Regions from separate parts of the Homo sapiens genome. Here region 2 is linked to region 1. The links come from fine-mapping of genetic effects on gene expression. Tissue or cell type: whole blood. Region 1 holds a variant in brackets; the other region holds the start of a gene. All regions are shown on one strand. Distances are from middle to middle.

What was found. PIP is the estimated chance that this variant, and not a neighbour inherited with it, causes the effect.
Region 2: it holds the start of MCTP2, and the variant in region 1 is fine-mapped to the expression of MCTP2 in whole blood (INTERVAL, PIP above 0.99). The same link has a PIP of 0.9 or more in blood mononuclear cells, esophagus mucosa, monocytes and thyroid.

What each region holds. Positions count from the first base shown.
Region 1 is chr15:94,201,520-94,212,018 of GRCh38, forward strand. It overlaps LOC105370984 (a long non-coding RNA gene), which reads right to left and starts at 5,371. Exons shown (of 2, transcript XR_932640.1): 1 at 5,284-5,371. The variant G/C (reference allele first, on the strand shown) is at 5,167.
Region 2 is chr15:94,225,017-94,235,515 of GRCh38, forward strand. It overlaps MCTP2 (multiple C2 and transmembrane domain containing 2), which reads left to right and starts at 6,545. Exons shown (of 23, transcript NM_001385001.1): 1 at 6,545-6,648. RefSeq lists an enhancer at 4,800-4,939 and a silencer at 6,475-6,604.

The sequences.
Region 1 (10,499 bases):
CTCGCTCTGTCGCCCAGGTCGGACTGCGGACTGCAGTGGCGCAATCTCGGCTCACTGCAAGCTCCGCTTCCCGGGTTCACGCCATTCTCCTGCCTCAGCCTCCCGAGTAGCTGGGACTACAGGCGCCTGCCACCGCGCCCGGCTAATTTTTTGTATTTTTAGTAGAGACGGGGTTTCACCTTGTTAGCCAGGATGGTCTCGATCTCCTGACCTCATGATCCACCCGCCTCGGCCTCCCAAAGTGCTGGGATTACAGGCGTGAGCCACCGCGCCCGGCCTCTTCTCTTGCTTCCTTCCTTTATTTTCTTCCTTTCTTCCTTCCTTTACCTTTGTTCAGTTTTATTCTTAAGTAAAATACAGAACAATAGCACAAAAATCAGGAGATGAGAAATAGAAAATTATTACAAAGCTTCTATACTTACATAAAGTGGTATAATATCACTTGAAGGTAGGCTGTGATAAGTTCAAGACACATTCTAGAAAAAGACTAAAATAAAACAAAGAGTATAGCTAATTAATCTAAAAGAAGACAAAATGGAATCATAAAAAAAATATACTCGGCTGAGAGCAGTGGCTCACGTCTGTAATCCCAGCACTTTGGGAGGCTGAGGTGGACGGATCACAAGGTCAGGAGTTCGAGACCAGCCTGGCCAATATGGTTTAACCCTGTCTCTACTAAAAATATAAAAATTAGCTGGGCATGGTGGCGGGCGCATGTAGTCCCAGCTACTCGGGACGCTGAGGCAGGAGAATTGCTTGAACCCAGGAGGCAGAGGTTGCAGTGCGCCAAGATCGCGCCACTGCACTCCAGCCTGGGTGACAGAGCGAGACCCCATCTCAAAAAATATATATATATACACACACACACACACATACACACACACTCAACTAATTCCAAAGAAGTTACAAAAAGAAGAAACGGAAACAAGGAACAGAGAGGACAAATAGGAAATAAGTAGAAAGATGATATATTGAAACCTAATAAAACCAATAATCACATTAAATATAAATTGTCAGAGACACCAATTAAAAATTAAAATGTAAAGTTGGATAAAAATGCAGGAGCTACCTACATGCTGCCTAAAAAAAAAACTTTATAAAGACACAAAAATATAAAAAGTATGGGCAAAAGACCCAGAATATTCAACATAATACTGAAGGAGAAGAACAAACTTAGAGGACTGACACTACCTGACTTCAAGACTTACTTTAAAGCTAGAGTAATTAAGACAGTGTGGTATTGTGAAAGAATAGAAAAATAGATCCATTGAACAGAAGAGAGAGGCCAGAAATAGACTCACATAAATATAACCCACTGATGATTGACAAAGGAACAATAATCCAATAAGCAAAGATCGTTTCTTTCAACAAGTGGCACCAGAACAACTGGACATCCAAATGCACAGAAACAAAAAAACAAACCAAAATGAACAGACAAAAACCCCCAAATTGAGATGCAGACCTAATACCCTTAACAAAAATTAACTCAAAGTAATCCACAGACCTAAATGCAGAATGCAAAATTATAAAACACCTCGATGACAACGTAGGAGAAAATGAAAATTACCTTTGGTTCAGAGAAAACTTTTTAGGTACGATGTCAAAGACACAATCCACGACAAAAAGTTGTTAAGCCGAATTTTATTAAAAGTAAAGATTTCGGCTCTGCAAAAGACATTGACAAGAGAATGAAAAGGTAAGCCACAGACTGGGGTAAAATATTTGCAAAAGACAAATCTGGTTAAAGGACAGTAATGTGAGAAAACATTTTAAATGGTCCACTTTCAAGGCATGATAAGTCTAAGTACTGGCAGCCAGCCTGCAAATGTAACAAATTGCATGGCTCATGAACCTAGAAGGTCACAGTAAGTGAATAGAATGTAGAGGAGGGGTCAGCCCATAAAAGGGAAGAAAGTTTCATTATTGGGAAATCAAAACTTAAGCGGGGACTGGGATGGCATATAACCTTATAAGGGAAATAATAAAACTTAGGTGACGTCTGGGAAGATTGTAACCCCATAGTACTTGACCAATAAGGAACTGGGGGAGGGACTTGCATGCTAGGAGATAAATTACCTGTTGTGACTGCCCAGGATGTGCCTGCCTATCAGACACCTGATCTTGCAAGACCGTTTGCTGTTCTTTGTGCCTCTAAGTCCATTCTTTGGGTTTGGATGGGTGAGTGTGTTTCTCACAAGTAATCCAAAATATGCAAAGAACTCTTAAAACTCAATAATACGACAACAAATACCTGATTAAAATATGGATCAAAGACCTTCACAGACAGCTCACCAAATAAGAAATACAGATGGTAAATAAGCATATGAAAGTATGTTCCATGTCATATGTCACCACAGAAATGAAAATCTGAAGAAGCTACATGCTGTATAATTCCAACTATATGACATTCTGGAAAAAGCAAAACCATGGAAACAGTAAAAGGATTGTAGTTTCCTGGAAATAGGGAAGAGGGAGAGATGAAGAGGTAGAGCATAGAGGATTTTTAGGGCACTGAAACTACTCTGTGTGATACTCTAACTGTATGCATTATACATTTGTCCAAATCCATAGAATGTATAGCTCCAAGACTAAATCCTAATGTAAACTATGGACTTTGAATGATAGTGATGCAACAATGTAGGCTCATCAGTTGTAACACATATGCCACTCTTGTGGAGGATGTAGATATTGTGGGGGTCTATGCATGTGTGGAGGCAAGGTCTACACAAAAATCCTCTGTACATTTTTCTCAGTTTTACTGTGAACCTAAAACTGCTCTTTAAAAATGAAGTCTTTTTAAAAAATAAATAAAAGGATGAAAGAGATATACCATGCTATCACTAAAAATAATTGTAATAGCTATATTAATATCCTACAAAGTAGATCTCAAACAAAGAATATTACTAGTGATAAATAAGTTAATTTCCTGATAATAAAAATGTCAACTAGTCAGGAGGACAAAAGAATCTGAAATGTGTATGTTCTGCATAAAATAACTTCAAAATTTATAAAACAAAATCTGCTAGAACTGTAAGGAAAAAGACAAAATCACAAAAATAGAGAGTTTTATATTTCTCCCAAAATAATTGGGAGAAATATAATATATTTACCAATAATATATCCCAATTATTTTTATTATTTATTATTTTTATTTTATTATATATATTTCCCAATAATATATCCCAACTATTTTGGGAGAAATATAAAATAGAATAAGTAGACTTTATGACTTTCCTAGGATATAGGAAAACTGAACAAATCTATAAACAAACTTGACTTTTTTGACATTATAGAATAACCCGTCTCCAAACACCAGAATATACATTTTTTGTACCATACACGGAACATTTACAAAGACAGACCATAATCTGAGAAAGAAAACAACCGTCAATAAATTTTAAATTATTCATATTGTGCAGTGTGTCTTTGGTAAATTGAGACTTAAATTAGAATTCAAAACCAGAATGATCTCTTGAAAACTCCTAAAATTTGGAATGTAAATAACAAACATCGCTACAATCAAGACATATTTATCATTCTGAAAAACTTTCATACGCCTTTTTGTAATCCCCTCCTTAATCGGAGTGATGGTTTCATTGGTACAGAAATATGTCAAACTTATTAAATTGGACACATATATACGTATATACATACATACACTTAATTATGTCAACTATAACTCAATTTTTTAAAAGTAAGAGTTACAACAAATACAAGTGGAGGATCCCTTTCTAATAACAACATATTTAAATGGGAGTCTGTCTCTTCAATGCACTTGAATCGATATTGATTTTAACGTTTACAATGGTCTGTAAAATAGTTCTTTGACAATTCCCTCTAAATTAGTCTAACTGAAACTGAATTCAACCAGTTAATAGGCTGGCTATTTTTTTTTATGTTTAGATTGAGTTAAATGGTTCTATCTGTGCAAATCTTCCCACTCTTCACTTAAAACCTCAAACACAATAAAAGCCCATCTATAGATACCACTGGGAAATGCGTCATTCAGTGAAGTAATTCCTACCACAAATCCCTGCAATTTGCATACACGCGGGCCCCTCTTTCCCCTGAGCTTCAGGCTGGGAGAAGCTGGTGTAAGAGACAGCCAGCCTGTTGCCAAACTCACTTTATTTGTTCGAGCATATTCCTTTAACACGGGACAGTCGGCTTCCTGTAGTATTTTTCCAAAAAGAAAGTAGGCGTGGCCCATTTTAAGCCTCCAAGAAAATAAACAAATAAATAATTGTTTTCATTTTCCTTTGTTCTTGATCCCTTCCCAAACTAATCTAAAAATGAGTTTTGTTTTATACGAAAAGATCGATGCATGCAGCGGTTTTTTTCCCCTTAAAATCTGGCATCTCTATAAAGAAAAACTGCCTATGTACAGACTGTGTAAGCGAAGAGAAAAAAAGAACTTAAAAAGAAAGAGATTGCCATTTTTAGTCCATTATACATGTATTTTAGAAAACACTTTCACCACCTGAATCCACGGAAGAGAGTCTGAGGTGTGACCCTTTTATTCTCAAAAAGAGAGCAGCAGAGGCCGGGCGCGGTGGCTCACGCCTGTAATCCCAGCACTTTGGGAGGCCAAGGCGGGCGGATCACAAGGTCAGGAGATCGAGACCATCCTGGCTAACACGGTGAAACCCCATCTCTACTAAAAATACAAAAAACTAGCCAGGCGTGGTGGCGGGCGCCTGTAGTCCCAGCTACTCGGGAGGCTGAGGCAGGAGAATGGCGTGAACTGGGGAGGCGGAGCTTGCAGTGAGCCGAGATCCCGCCACTGCACTCCAGCCTGGGTGACAGAGCGAGACTCCGTCTCAAAAAAAAAAAAAAAAAAGAAAGAAAAGAAGAGAAAAAGAAAAAGAGGGCAACAGAGACTTCTGCTAAACCTACCAATGACCACTAGAAGAGTCTGAAAGGCTGGGAGAGACTGAATCTCTCTGAGACCGAGCAGGGTCTCCTTAATTTCAAAACTTATACAGGCACTTTACATGATTGCAAAGGGGCCATGTATTATTTGCCCAGGAAATGCTCTTATGCTTTACAGGGTTTGCTACAGGAGGGGCGAGTAATGACTTAGCAGAACTTCTTCGTGAATTACTGGAAGCCAGCATGTTCCTCCTGCTCTGGCTTGTGCAGGAATAAACCACACACCACTTAACA[G/C]GGTTGGTGGTTTTTCTTGTCCTTTCCTGTTTGGAGAAGGACGTTGACAGTAGAGAAAGCCAAGGCACTGACTCATGAACAGTAGAGACTGTCAGCAGAGCAGAGAACGATACCCACCTTCTAAACTTCTCATCTCCATACTTCTGATGAAACAACCAAACAAGAGCCAAAATTACTCTTAAAAATTCTGAGAAATTATAGTGTGATGAAGGTTAACATGACCACTGATGTCATGTGGATATCACATAGCGCCTCCCCACAATATGACGCGACAATGAAGGCACTTCACCTATGTGATACTCTTCCAAAAACGTAGACTCCAGTCTAATCATAAGAAAAATGACAGACCAGCCCACATGGGGAGGTGTTCTACAGTATTCCTGGGCGGTACTTCTCAATACTGTTAAGGTAATGAACAATAAGGAAGACAGATAAACTGTCGCAGAGCAGAGGAGCCTGGGGAGCCATGCAAACTAAATGCAATGTGGTACCCTGGCCTGAATCCTGGAGCACAAAATAGATGCTAATGGAAACACTGATGAAATCCAATACAGCCCAGTGTTTGGCTAATAGTAAACACCAGCATCCGCTTCTTAGTTGTGACAAATGTACCATCGTATTTTACAATGGTAAAATATATCTAGGTTCCATGGGGGAAACTAGATGAAGGATATGCAGGAACTCTGTGTACTATCTTTGCAACTTTTCTGTCAATCTAAAATTAGGCTGAAATTTAAAAACATGATTTTAAAAGCTGAGAAATAATTCTGAGAAAGAATGTTTGTACCTTATTGCAACTTAAATGTCTAAAATGAAAATTTGATGCTCACAAGAATGATGTCTGAATAAATGAAATAAAGTTATCTAAGCAGATGATGTTCTAAATTATTGCCTCTGTGTTCTGAATTCCATTGTGTTCTTGCCCCTAGCCCCCAGCCCAAAGTCAAAAAGTTACTTGAAACTAACAAGTAACTATAGTTTAAAAAATTTTTTAAGTCTTTAGAAAAACATAAATGTGTACGTCTCTGCGACACGAAAGGCCATACAAGTGAAGAGATCACATTGGATATTTTTTTGTGCCCCTCTTGTGCAAACAGACATAGACATGGCACATGGCATATAATTATTATTGACACATCTGTCCCTGCCCTACATCTTGATTTCTTTGTGAGGAAGAAAAGTAGTCTTTGGAATCATTAGATATAAATACAAATAAATCCCAGCTCACCAAGTAATTATTAATTAATGTATTTTGTTTTGTTTTGTTTTGTTTTTTTGAGACAGAGTCTCGCTCTGTCGCCTAGGCTGGAGTGCAATGGTGTGATCTTGGCTCACTGCAACCTCCGCCTCCTGGGTTCTAGCCATTCTCCTGCCTCAGCCTCCTGAGTAGCTAGGACTACAGGCATGCACCACCATGCCTGGCTTTTTGTATTTTCAGTAGAGATGGGGATTCACCATGTTGGTCAGGCTGGTCTCAAACTCCTGACCTCAGTTGATCTGTCCGCCTTGGCCTCCGAAAGTGCTGGGATTAAAGGTGTGAGCCACTGCAACCGGCCTCCCCAAGTAATTATTAAGGTAACTCTAAACATTGCAACACATTTTTTTTAATTATTATACTTTAAGTTTTAGGGTACATGTGCACAGCGTGCAGGTTTGTTACATACGTATACATTGCCATGTTCGTGTGCTGCACCCATCAACTCGTCATTTAGTATTAGGTATCTCTCCCAATGCTATCCCTCCCTCCTCCCCTCACGCCACAACAGTCCCCGGTGTTTGATGTTCCCCATTCTGTGTCCACGTGTTCTCATTGTTCAATTCCCACCTATGAGTGAGAACATGCGGTGTTTGGTTTTTTTGTCCTTGTGATAGTTTGCTGAGAATGATGGTTTCCAGCTTCATCCATGTTCCTACAAAGGACATGAACTCATCATTTTATATGGCTGCATAGTATTCCATGGTGTATATGTGCCACATATTCTTAATCCAGTCTATCATTGTTGGACATTTGGCTTGGTTCCAAGTCTTTGCTATTGTGAATAGTGCCGCAATAAACATACGTGTGCATGTGTCTTTATAGCAGTATGACTTACAATCCTTTGGGTATATACCCAGTAATGGGATGGCTGGGTCAAATGGTATTTCTAGTTCTAGATCCCTGAGGAATCACCACACCGAATTCCACAATGGTTGAAGTAGTTTATAGTCCCACCAACAGTGTAAAAGTGTTCCTATTTCTCCACATCCTCTCCAGCACCTGTTGTTTCCTGACTTTTTAATGATTGCCATTCTAACTGGTGTGAGATGGTATCTCATTGTGGTTTTGATTTGCATTTCTCTGATGACCAGTGATGATGAGCATTTTTTCATGTGTTTTTTGGCTGCATAAATGTCTTCTTTTGAGAAGTGTCTGTTCATATCCTTCGCCCACTTGTTGATGGGATTGTTTGTTTTTTTCTTATAAATTTGTTTGAGTTCAAAGTAGATTCTGGATATTAGCCCTTTGTCAGATGAGTAGGTTGCAAAAATTTTCTTCCATTCTGTAGGTTGCCTGTTCACTCTGATGGTGGTTTCTTTTGCTATGTAGAAGCTCTTTAGTTGGATTAGATCCCATTTATCAATTTTGTCTTTTGTTGCCATTGCTTTTGGTGTTTTAGACATGAAGTCCTTGCCCATGCCTATGTCCTGAATGGTATTGCCTAGGTTTTCTTCTAGGGTTTTTATGGTTTTAGGTCTAACATGTAAGTCTTTAATCCATCTTGAATTAATTTTTGTATAAGGTGCAAGGAAGGGGTCCAGTTTCAGCTTTCCCCATATGGCTAGCCAGTTTTCCCAGCACCGTTTATTAAATAGGGAATCCTTTCCCCATTTCTTGTTTTTGTCAGGTTTGTCAAAGATGAGATAGTTGTAGATATGTGGCATTATTCCTGAGGGCTCCGTTCTGTTCCATTGGTCTATATCTCTGTTTTGGTACCAGTACCATGCTGTTTTGGTTACTGCAGCCTTGTAGTATAGTTTGAAGTCAAGTAGTGTGATGCCTCCAGCTTTGTTCTTTTGGCTTAGGATTGACTTGGCAATGCAGGCTCTTTTTTGGTTCCATATGAACTTTAAAGTAGTTTTTTCCAATTCTGTGAAGAAAGTCATTGGTAGCTTGATGGGGATGGCAATGAATCTATAAATTACCTTGGGCAGTATGGCCATTTTCATGATATTGATTCTTCCTACCCATGAGCATGGAATGTTCTTCCATTTGTTTGTATCCTCTTTTATTTCATTGAGCAGTGGTTTGTAGTTCTCCTTGAAGAGGTCCTTCACATCCCTTGTAAGTTGGATTCCTAGGTATTTTATTCTCTTTGAAGCAATTGTGAATGGGCGTTCATTCATGATTTGGCTCTCTGTCTGTTATTGGTGTATAAGAATGCTTGTGATTTTTGCACATTGATTTTGTATCCTGAGACTTTGCTGAAGTTGTTTATCAGCTTAAGGAGACTTTGGGCTGAGATGATGGGGTTTTCTAGATATACAATCACGTCATCTGCAAACAGGGACAATTTGACTTCCTCTTTTCCTAATTGAATGCCCTTTATTTCCTTCTCCTGCCTGATTGCCCTGGCCAGAACTTCCAACACTATGTTGAATAGGAGTGGTGAGAGAGGGCATCCCTGTCTTGTGCCAGTTTTCAAAGGGAATGCTTCCAGTTTTTGTCCATTCCATATGATATTGGCTGTGGGTTTGTCATAGATAGCTCTTATTATTTTGAGATACGTCCCATCAGTACCTAATTTATTAAGAGTTTTTAGCATGAAGTGTTGTTGAATTTTGTCAAAGGTCTTTTCTGCATCTATTGAGATAATCATGTGGTTTTCGTCTTTGGTTCTGTTTATATGCCGGATTATGTTTATTGATTTTCGTATGTTGAACCAGCCTTGCATCCCAGGGATGAAGCCCACTTGATCATGGTGGATAAGCCTTTTGATGTGTTGCTGTATTCAGTTTGCCAGTATTTTATTGAGGATTTTTGCATCAATGTTCATCAAAGATATTGGTCTAAAATTCTCTTTTTTGGTTGTGTCTCTGCTAGGCTTTGGTATCAGGATGATGCTGGCCTCATAAAATGAGTTAGGGAGGATTCCCTCTTTTCCTATTGATTGGAATAGTTTCAGAAGGAATGGTACCAGCTCCTCCTTGTACCTCTGGTAGAATTCGGCTGTGAATCCATCTGGTCCTGGACTTTTTTTGGTTGGTAAGCTATTAATTATTGCCCCAATTTCAGAGCCTGTTATTGGTCTATTCAGAGATTCAACTTCTTCCTGGTTTAGTCTTGGGAGAGTGTGTGTTGAGGAATTTATCCATTTCTTCTAGATTTTCTAGTTTATTTGCATAGAGGTGTTTATAGTAATCTCTGATGGTAGTTTGTATTTCTGTGGGATCGGTGGCGATATCCCCTTTATCATTTTTTATTGCGTCTATTTGATTCTTCTCTCTTTTCTTCTTTATTAGTCTTGCTAGCGCTCTATCAATTTTGTTGATCTTTTCAAAAAACCAGCTCCTGGATTCATTGATTTTTTGAAGGGGTTTTGTGTCTCTATTTCCTTCAGTTCTGCCTGATTTTAGTTATTTCTTGCCTTCTGCTAGCTTTTGAATGTGTTTGCTCTTGCTTCTCTAGTTCTTTTAATTGTGATGTTAGGGTGTCAATTTTAGATCTTTCCTGCTTTCTCTTGTGGGCATTTAGTGCTATAAATTTCCCTCTACACCCTGCTTTGAATGTGTCCCAGAGATTCTGGTATGTTGTGTCTTTGTTCTCGTTGGTTTCAAAGAACATCTTTATTTCTGCCTTCATTTTGTTATGTACCCAGTAGTCATTCAGGAGCAGGTTGTTCAGTTTCCATGTAGTTGAGCGGTTTTGAGTGAGTTTCTTAATCCTGAGTTCTAGTTTGATTGCACTGTGGTCTGACAGACAGTGCAACACATTTCTTAAAGCAGTATTTTTAATCATATAATTAGGTACTAGTCATATATCTTCCAGGGTGTCTCAGAGGATCTCATAGGGTTTAATAGGCATCCGGTACATGTTAATATCTTTTTGTTCTTAAGGTATTAAAAAATTTCATTTCCAGGGAAAACTATTGTCTATAGCACACTGGTCCAGATTATCTGACTCTAGCCTTTCATTATCTTTGAGCTATTTTATAACTTGGTAAATTTTAGATATGTAATAGCAAGGCAAAATGATTCTAGTCTATGGATATACCGATTAGTTATGTGCAGTGGAGAGACAGATCTCCCTCCATTGGAAAAGGCAGTTTTGCATCCATTTGCAAGTTCATTTCAAA
Region 2 (10,499 bases), 23 kb after region 1:
TATTGCTGTATTTCAAAAAACTGCAGTGACAGCCACACCTTGAGGAAAGTGTGATTCCAAAGAAAAAAATCAATTTTCTTGTCTGACTTACATTACAACTATAGATAGTACAAACTTTGATTATATTGGGCTCATTATCATCATTACTTATATAATCAGACCGTTCTTTTTGACTTGTCTACCTTATTTATCTTCACACTTTCTGGTCTTCTTGTCCTGATGGTCCATAGTAGTTTTGTCTTGCCAATTTAAATTCCAGCTTGCTTCCCCCCACTGTTCATTGATCACTTGATTTTCCATTTTTAATTTCCACCCTTCTGACTTCCAGTCACACTTTTCATGGTGCTGCTAATTCTGCCTTTTATTCGCCTGCCATGTTTCATCATTAAGTGACCATGGAAGTTTCTATCTTGCAGAGGACACGAGCCTCCCTGAGCACATCTTGCTAAAATGTGCACTTTAGAACTACCTAGAACATGGGCAGCCAGCAGGATAATGTGTCCACATGCATTTTAAATGTGGATCTCTGAGCCTACTCCTTGTTACTTTACTTCCAGCTCTCAAAGAAATATTGCTTAACAAAATTGTATTTCAGTGATGTACTAAAATACGAATAATATGTTCAGGTGCAACAATATGATGTTGGGATTTGGTTGGTTCTCAAGAGAAGTGATTGGTTTTCATTGCTGGAGAAGATAGTCTTTCAGAAACGAGGCATTACAGACACAAAACTTAACAGAGACCCAGAATAGTTTAATCTGCTGTATGAACACATAGCCAGGATTCTGTTCATAGTTTTGTGGATTCCTTGAGCATATTTTGCCAATGAATGTGTATGAAAGCAGTACACATAGTTTGAAATATAAAGCCAGGGTTTTCAGATGAGAGGTGCTGGAATAGAACTACATTTTGCAAAGTAATGAAGTAGGGCTCACTTTCACCAAAAACCATCAGGGATAAGGAGGCAGGTCACAGCCCACACTGAAGGTGGATGCAAAGGTCACTGTAGAAAGTTCTAAACTACAACTGAGAAGATGTCTGATATTAACAAATGAAGCTACTCCTTTCCCTTTAAAATATCTAAAATATATTTTTGTGCTGACTGAATTAGGTTTTCCTTATTCTTCTCCATTTTAAAGTCAGCTGAATAGAAGTTCAACCTAATCAAAGTTTACTTTTTAAAAGAACAAGCCCTTTAGAGAATGTGTAATTTTTCATTATAGTTGGGTATTTCTCAGTAGGAAAAATGAAAAACTTTAGCACATACTGGAAATTAAGAAATTAAGAAATTAACTTAGTCTTAAGGTCAGATTACTTACTGTCTTATTTTCTACTTTGGATTTTTTCAGGAAGTGGCAACAATTGTCACTACAAAGACGTGCCTAAAAAAAAATCAGTAAAGCAGGCAGGTGCCTACCAGGTTGGTTTGCAAATGTCCTTATGCACTTAATAAGACCTTGTCTATTTCCTGACTACTTTTCAATCCATTAATTAGTGATGTTGTACTTTCTTTGTAGGTTATCATTAGAGGCAGTAATGGGAGACTGGATGAATGAAAACTTATGCAAATTATACATCCCAACCAGTCACAAAGACAGACTGGAGACGTCAAGTCCAAAATTTGTTAATGTCCTCAGCCATAGACATAGTTATTATTTCTCCACATTTGTCTATATTTTGATTTTCTGATTAAGATTATGGAAATACTGCTAGATGGCTGGCTTCATTTATTGAACTGATCTTTGTCTGCCAGTTGAGTCTGTACTTATCTCAATTGTGTAAGCCAGGTTTCACCCATGAAGACTCCCTTTTTTCATCACTTGGGACTGACTGGGGTCCCGGTTTCTGCTGATTCTCTGGTGTATTTTCTACCTGGTTTTTTACACCACTTGCTGGGCTCTGCAGGTGCTACTATCAAGGCCTCTTCACTCTGACACTCTATTGTGTTTATCTGTTTACACATCTAGCGAAAATGTGAGCCATTGGAGGGCAGAAGCTATCATATTTGTGTTATATCCACAGAGTTTATCACAGAGCTTAATATATGGATCAGGGGATTCAAACTGGTTGCCAGGCTTTCGGCCACCTGTATTTTTTAGCCAGCACAGGGTTAACAATAAGTAAATTTGAATGTCTTTAGGTGGGCCTACTCTCTGCTATTTGCCACAGTCTCTATCTTCTTATATGTGACCACAGTCAATCTCTATTTCACCAGTCTCACCCATGTAGGCACCCTAGTTTGTGGTCCTGGTTGTAGATGATGAATACATGCTAATTATGTGAATGAATACATCAATGAATGTACTTCTTATTTTGCATGGAGAATTGATTGTTATCTAAATATTCTTGTCCTGAAAATTCCCCTAGTTTCATCTCTCATTTTGGAAAATACAGGTAGAAAAACAGATAACTGTAATGTGCAATGCACAAATAAGCATTTCTGAATACTTGCCAGAGGTGAGCCACTCTGTGCATTCTAGTGGCTCAATTAGAGAGGAAAACAAATTCAACTGTGTTATTTGCAGAACCCATAAGATGCAAACAAACCATTTGTTGTGGAAAAGCTCAAGATTTTTGTATCTGAGATGAGTGATAACTTCTACCTTGGATCATCTTAAAACAGGCAGTGTAATTTTAAAAAACAATGACCCCGACCAACATGCCAAATGTATGTTCAACAACGTATTTCCCAAGGTAGATTCTTAAGATACCCCCCACTATTGCCAATGACAACACACTAGAGAACAATTCAATAAATGTGATTTGGGGCCACAGAAATTCTCTACAGTATGAACCTCTCCCCTGGCCTAGGGGAAGTTTTAAGCAATTAACTGAATGAAATTCAGATCGTCAGACAAAAATGTTGGTACTGAGATAGTAATCTTGGGCAAAGTTAACCTTCATCTGAAGAAGTAAATTTGGTTCTTCTTTACCCATCTAATGAATGGCAGACTCAGTCTCTTAAGAGTTAACTCCAAGCCTCTAATAATTTTAACTTTTCAGAAGCAACCACTACCAGATGTTCATTTTGGCCATAAAAGTTCCCACCCAATAAAGGTACAACATCCATAAAAGTCGATCTTTGAACAACTTACTACCTGTGAACATTTCCAGCTAATCAGCTTGTGTTAAATACATGTTTAGGTATTTGAAAGAAAAGAACTTGATACATAGAATCATCATTAGGACAATTCAATGCTGATGTTGATTTCCAAAGAGATTTTATAAGAAGTCTTTCTGAATAATTAGAGAATAGGACTCATTTTCTGTTAGGTCCATTCTTTTGTTCAAGAAAGTGAAGCCTACAGGATAAACTCGTAACTAGTAAGTGGCAGAGCTAGGTCTGGAGTGAGTCACTAAATTTGGTCTCTCCACACCTGCCTATAAAAAGGGGATAACATGATAATTATACCAAAGGAAAAAAAATCCTGAGTACATATAATAACAAAGACTATTTGCACTAACAATAAAAGAAGTACCATTTCTCAACGCCACGTAACAGAGTGCATATTCTTCCTTAAAGCACACACTAAAATAAACATTTGTTACTTGGACAATAGACTGAAGTTTGCTTTAACCATTATATTCGTTTTAACCCCTGGTAGATCTAAATTGACATGTTTATGTCTCAGTCATTTTTCTACTTCTGCTCTTATCGGCCCAGAAATGATGAGAAGCACCAACGAAGGAAAATGTGAGGGAAGCTAGGTGCCAAGCCCTTACATTACTGCTAGCAGATCTCAGACAGCTTTCTCTTTGACATAAAGGGACTTGTCCCAGCAAGATTAGCTCTGTGTCCTCCAAATGGAGCCAGACTGTGTTGACTGCATGGCCAACTCTGATAGGATGACCCAAGGAGGCTCCCACTGAGCAGAGAAGATATGGAACTCTAGATCCTATGCATTTACAGACAGGGTCTTGTCTTCTTTAGAGAAGACTGCTTTAACCCTCATTGTCAAAGACTCTGGGTGGCTACAGCAATTTTCATTTGTTTCATTTGAAATACTCTGGCTCATTCAAAAAGGCACAGGGACGTGGCTAGATAACTGCACTAATTGTTATCTAGCCTTTGTATGCACTTAACCGTGCTTCTGCATGTATGACAGGCAGTATAGCCATGATAGCCAAGGAGTACACTGGGCCTTCAGAAGACACATCTTCCATTTACAATTTAAAAGAAGAGGTGCCAATATTAGATTGTCATGCAACCAAACATACATTGTCTAAGATATAAAAGCAATTGTATCTGAAAGTGGGAAATCTCCACCTCAATTATCACATTGACAATAGGGGCATTTCTTCAGAGGCCAAATATCTGGTTGCTCAGAAGAGAGAGAAAGCTGCCTATGATACGTGCAGGAGATTTTATTTTTTTTTAAGTATAATTATGACATCACTGACCAGTGCCTATAATGTAAGACCTGGTTCAAAATCTGTTTAGAGAAATTCAATATAACAAAAGTGTGTTAAAAATTTATCAGCTACATGTATGAGTCCAGTTGCCATTCTAAATGCTGGTGTGGTTATGTAGTAAAGTTAAATTGGTATAAGCAACAATATTATTCCCTGGAAGGGACATTTCCTGGGTGGAACATAGAAAAGGAGACAGGTAATATGTTTGAACAATTAAAAACAAAAAACCCAGGAAGCTGGGCAGATGAGTGTATTGTGGTGGGAAGGGCAAGTTGTGACCTTAGATTTCTGTATCTTTAGTTGTTTCACTTTCTATACCATTTAATGATTGAAAAATGCGGTTGGACTGCCGGAACCACAGAACAGGAACTCCACTGGGGCAGGAGTTAAAGGCAAAAAAGCTTTTGTGTGGGTTCACTTACTATTTTAATTCATTTGTATTCTTAGTCAGCTTTAAAGGTATGATTGCTTCGTCTGCCTACTGCTCTTTCTCTTCTTCCTTTCATGCTGTTTTACCCTTACCTCTCTCTGTTCTCTGCTAGGGGATGTAACCTTCGGCACGGTGGGAAAAGCCAATTTTGCCATAGGCCTCAGCTTGCTCTGACTCGGCTACTAACTTGACTCATAGCTTCAGGCAGGTTATTTCATGGTTCTGATGCTCATTTTCCTCATCTTGAATCAGAGATTTTATTAACTGTCTCCTGGTTTGTGAAAATTCAATATGATCACGTGTTACATGCCAATCACAGAAACTGGTGCGAAGTTGTGTTCCTCAGTGGTAGCTATTGTTGTAAGTCGGAATTGCATGACAGTGGCAGCTGTTTTCTATCACGTCCTCATGTTTTCTAAATTTTTATGCCCCTTCCTCCCATTTCCTACCTTAGTATTGTTAATAGCTAACTTTTATTAAGTGGTTACCATGGCCCAGGACACTGTAATGAGGATTTTATGTGAATTACCTAATTAATTTCTCAGAAAGTATGAGATAGCTATTATTTTAAGCTATTTAAGCTATTTTAAGCTATTTAAACAACCAGTTTGTTGAAGTTAAAATTTAGAGAGGTTAAGTGAACTCGTCCATTTACACAATTAGTTGCCCAGGCAGAATTTGATTTGAGGTCTGACTCCAAAGCCGGAGCTCTTAATCACCAGTGACACCAACTAAACGCTTCATTTCAGAGCTCGCCTATTCCCAGAGGTCCCATTCCCGTTTTAAGGTTATTTTCTGTAACTCTCTTGTATCTAATTTAAAAATGCTATTTCCCAGAGATGAGTCCCTGATCTCCCAGAAGGCATGGATCATACATTTCTTTTCCTAATCCACCCAAATTCCTAGAGCGCACAGACTTAGGCTCGTTCATAGACGGGAAAAGAAACTGACCAGGCAGTGAAACCGAGCAAACAAAGTGCAATAAGACAATTACAGCAGGAAAGCGGCGTAAAAAAAAGTAGAAAAAGAAAGTAAGGGAAAGGGGAAATAAATAGCAAATATTCGCTGAGTGCCAACAATCGCACGGGAGGGTCTTTAGGGTTCTCTGCCGAGTACTCGGGACGGCTTGCTGAGCAGTACGCCGGCCTTATCTCATAGATGAGGCACCAAGGCTCAGGAAACAGTTCTGTGGATCTGGGCGGGCATCTTCCACCCACAGTCGCGCACACGTGGCATAGGTTAATAGGCTGTCTGGCTCGGGTACCTCTTCCCAGGGTCAGGGCGTTACAAAGGGAGGCTGCTGTCTTCCCATGAATCTATTAGGGACCTACAGGAGCGAAGAGAACCCTTCTGAGTATCAGCGAAGACAGCTTATTAAGACTTTACGAGTTTGCAAGCCATCCTCGTCCTATTTCCTCACTTCGGACTTTTTGGACACACCTTCCTTTTCCTGTGAGCCAACCCAAACGAATGAGTTACAAGTAATCGCCTTCTCTACGCCCAGCCAGTGCCCAGCACCAAGCATAGCGCCTCCTTGCAACACCCGGCCGAGCTCCCGGCGGCAGCGCGGGCGCTTGGGTCGGAGGCTGCTCAAAGGTGACGCGCGGCCGCCTCCTCCCCTTTAGGCGGGGCTCGCAAGGGCGGTGGGGGGGCCCGAGGAAGTCCGGGGGCCCTCGGTGATGCCCCCGCCCCCGCCGCGTCAGGGTTGCTCCCTGCGCTTCCGAGTGGCGACTGCAGCGGGTCCGGTGCAGGTGAGGGGCGCGCGCCTGCCCAGCTTTGCAGCCCCCGAACGCGGCCTCGCACAGGTGAGGGCGGTGCCGGGTTCACCTGGCAGCGCGCGTGGGCCGGGCAGCACGGTCGCCGCCTGGGGGTGGGCGTCTTCTCTCAACCGAAGCTGGGAGTTGGGGAGCTGGAGGGTCCAGGATGAGAATTCAGTGGCGCTACTACCCCGGAGCTGCTTGTGGTTCAGAGATCAGAAAGGTGTCCTGAGGACTGGAGGCAGAAATCCAGGCGTGGCGTACTGGAAGGCGCACTAGGGGAGGGCAGCCTGGCCCAGAATTTCTTTGCATTTTAAAGGCCACACATTCAGTCTCCCCGGGGCGCTACGGAGGTAGTCACCGCCACATCCAGGACTCCTTCCACAGAGGTCAGTTCCTCAGCTGGGTGGGCTTTAATACGCTCTCTTCGTAGAGACCCGGAGGTTCAACTTTAATTCTTTGCGCTGACATTTGCTCAACGACACCGGAGCAGAAATCCTTGGGATAATTGCGTAGGTAACAAACAGTGTCTCAATCCCACTGAAGATAAGTAAGTTAAAAATAAAGACAGTGATGTTGGTGGTGAACTTGAGTGGCGATTAGTTTCCGCAATTAGTTCCCTCCTGCACTGTCCATTTGTTAAGCAAATGTGCTGACGGCTTTTTTTAAATGATTGGGTTGCCATAAAAGAGGTTTTCTCTAGTCTGAATGAACTTCTGTGCGATGCTGACTGAGGGTTTCAGCCTCCTCTAGATGCTTACAAGAGCTTGGTCTGGAAGGTACAAGGGTGCGAACCCTTAAGGTACCAAGCAGCTTCTCAGTGAACCGTGAGACGTTAGAACACTTGCTTCAGGACGCACAGAATTCAGACACCACTTATTGAAGGATTTGTATGGATTATAATTTACATTAGCATTCATTTTTTGCTTGAGTCAGTAGCATTTCAATTCAACAAATATTTATTGTACACCTGTTAACGGGCAGACCTCTGAGAGCCGGGCTGGTGTGCTGTTGGGTAGCACAGGTGTTGATATTAATACAAAGGGGAATCTTAAGGCACTTATTCCTCACAGGTGGGTGTTTAGAACGAGACCAATGGTGCTGCGCTTTGCCTCAGCAGCACCTGTGTAATCGCTGGTTATAAGTATTTAAATGCAGGGAGAATGTAAATCTTTGAAGAGTCTCTGTCATTAGCCTGATCAGTCATTCCAAAGCAATAAAAATTGTCAAAACCATGCTTAAAATAAGATTATTAAGAATTAGCTCTGTGCCAAGCACCATGCTAGGCACTTTGTCTTGTCTATGAAATCTACAAAGTAGATACTATTCCCCTGTGCAGATAAGGAACTGAGGCAGAGAGGAGTCCAGTAATTTGTACAAGGTCAGTGGTGAATTTAGAAATTGCATGTGGCTATTTCTGAGTGCAGAACTCGTACTTTTTCACTATTCCATGCTGTCTCTAAGATGGAGAGTGTAAATCCGGCAGATTTAATATAAGAATTCAAATTTATATTCATAGATCCTATCTCCTGGGGATTAATGGAGTTAAAGTAGTCCTCAGGAATGAAGTGAGCACTGTTTTCATTGCACTTGTGTGGTCAAGCTGTGACCTATCTGTGACTAGTAGATGTAGCTTTAAAAGATAAAATTTATTATGTGTCTTAACATATTTTGAAAGGCCTTTCAAAATATGTTAAAAGATAAAATTTATTATGTCTCTTAACATATTTTGAAAGGCCTGATATATCCAAACAGGGCCAATTAATAAAATTGCATATATATTCTCTCTGTGTTATACATGGAAGGAACAGCTAATTTCCTATTATTGGTGTGCTTTACTATGGTCTCCTCCTGCAGAGGTGAGTTTCTCAGCTGAGTGGGCTTTGAAATCAATTTCAGCTTGATTTCTTACAGCTGCAAGATGATTAGCGGTCTCTTGTCACCTGGAAAGGACTTTGTGTTTGTGTAAACCTGTGCTCACACACGAATATATATTTTTCCTTAAACCTATTTCCAGAAGTACTACTTCTGGAAATTGTAGAGTACTGCAATGTGATGATCTGGCGAGGAATCAAGTTCCTTATTTGACTTTTGCATAAAGGATTTATAACAACTGACAATTTCTTTAAGTGCATGTAAACCAGGAAAGTAATTTTCAAATTAAAATTATTATACTGTGGAGAATGGAAAGTGAGTGAAAAATAGTACTCTGAATTCAAATAATATTTCTTGTTGTGGAAAACACTTGCTTTCTTAAAACTTTTCTTGTAATTGTTGGTAATTACACACAGAAATGGAAGGGGTTTTATATTTAAATTACCTTGAATTGTTGCCAGTTAACTGTTGAGAAAAGGCTTTGCCCGTGAAGCGAGGATCAGGTAGAATATTTTGCCTGCGTCAATCTTGGCACAGATTTTTTTTTTCCCTCTATCTTCACGTGGAGGTGAAACAGCCAGACACCTTAAACTCCTCTTTAGGAGCTGAGCTGTTAAGTCCTTCCTAGAAGGTGTTTATAAAAGTGTGCCTGACCTGGTAAGGTGTTCTCATGGGGAACCAGGGTGGGTGATGAAGGAGGAGAGTATGTAGGGGATATGAAGCAGGGGCAGTTCCAAGTTTTGTGAGGCCTAAAAGGTAAACAATTTGGAGACTCTCTTTAAGAAAATTAATACAAAATTAGGTGTGAAAGTGAATATGTATTTAAAATGAGAAAAAGAGATGATAATTTACTGGAGATTTCTGCCTGTTTCTGTGGAGATCTTGGGCAATTTACCAGAAATGCTTACAAAAACAGGAGTGCTGATTGCAATCCGGCTTCCCCTCTCCCTGAGAACACTCAGCATTTCCCAGCAGCTTGTCACACCCACGGGGGGCCCTGCTAGTGAGAAGCCCAAAGTTGAAGCTCTGTTACCCTCAAAGAGTGAGAGGGAAAGTTGTGGTTAAAGGCAAAGGACTCATGCTCCACTGAGCAGAGAAGAGACTGCTGGATGGGACAGCAGAGACACTCTGGACACTCATGTCCAACGAACAATTCTGAGAGCTGGTCTTCAAGACTTTCCAGGTTGGTTTGTTTCTCAGGGATGCCTTTGGCCATTGGCTTTTCCAACTATCAGTCACCATTTATTGGGAGTTTTCTAATGTCCCAAGTCCTGAGTAAGGCGAAGTCCTGATTGTCAAGAACTCCCAGTCTCATGGAGCTGATTTCATTGATCACAGTGCTTTGTTATAGGCTTGCATAGAGATGCCACAGGGGCCTTGGAGGGTTCCTGATGGCTTGAGCTGAGTTTGGAGTTACTCTGATGGAGTCCAGGAGGGTCATTCTAAGTGAGCAGAGAGCCATTAAAAGCCCTGGTGGTGGTCGGGCACAGTGGCTCACGCCTGTAATCCCAGCACTTTGGGAGGCCGAGTTGGGTGGATCACCTGAGGTCAGGAGTTCGAGACCGGCCTGGCCAATATGGCGAAATCCCATCTCTACTAAAAGTACAAAAATTAGTCCGGTGTGGTGGCAGTGCCTATAATCCTAGGTAATTGGGAGGCTGAGGTAGGAGAATGGCTTGAACTTGGGAGGCGGAGGTTGCAGCAGTGAGCCAAGATTGCACCATTGCATTCCAGCCTGGGAGACAAGAGCGAAACTCCGTCTCAAAAAAAAAAAAAAATCCCTGGTGGTTTAGACTCATTCATTCTCCTCCACTGATGTTCTTCGAGTCCGGCAGCACCTACGTACCTGAGATTAACTTGTTAGAAATGCACGTTCTCAGGCACCCCGCATTAGGAGCTCTGCGTCTAGAGCACAGTAATCTGTGCTTTAAGAAGCCCTCCGGATGATTCTGGTGCATGCTAAAATCTGAAAACCACTGGTCTTAATATTTAAGAGAACAGATAGGGCATGGAATCCCTTATGG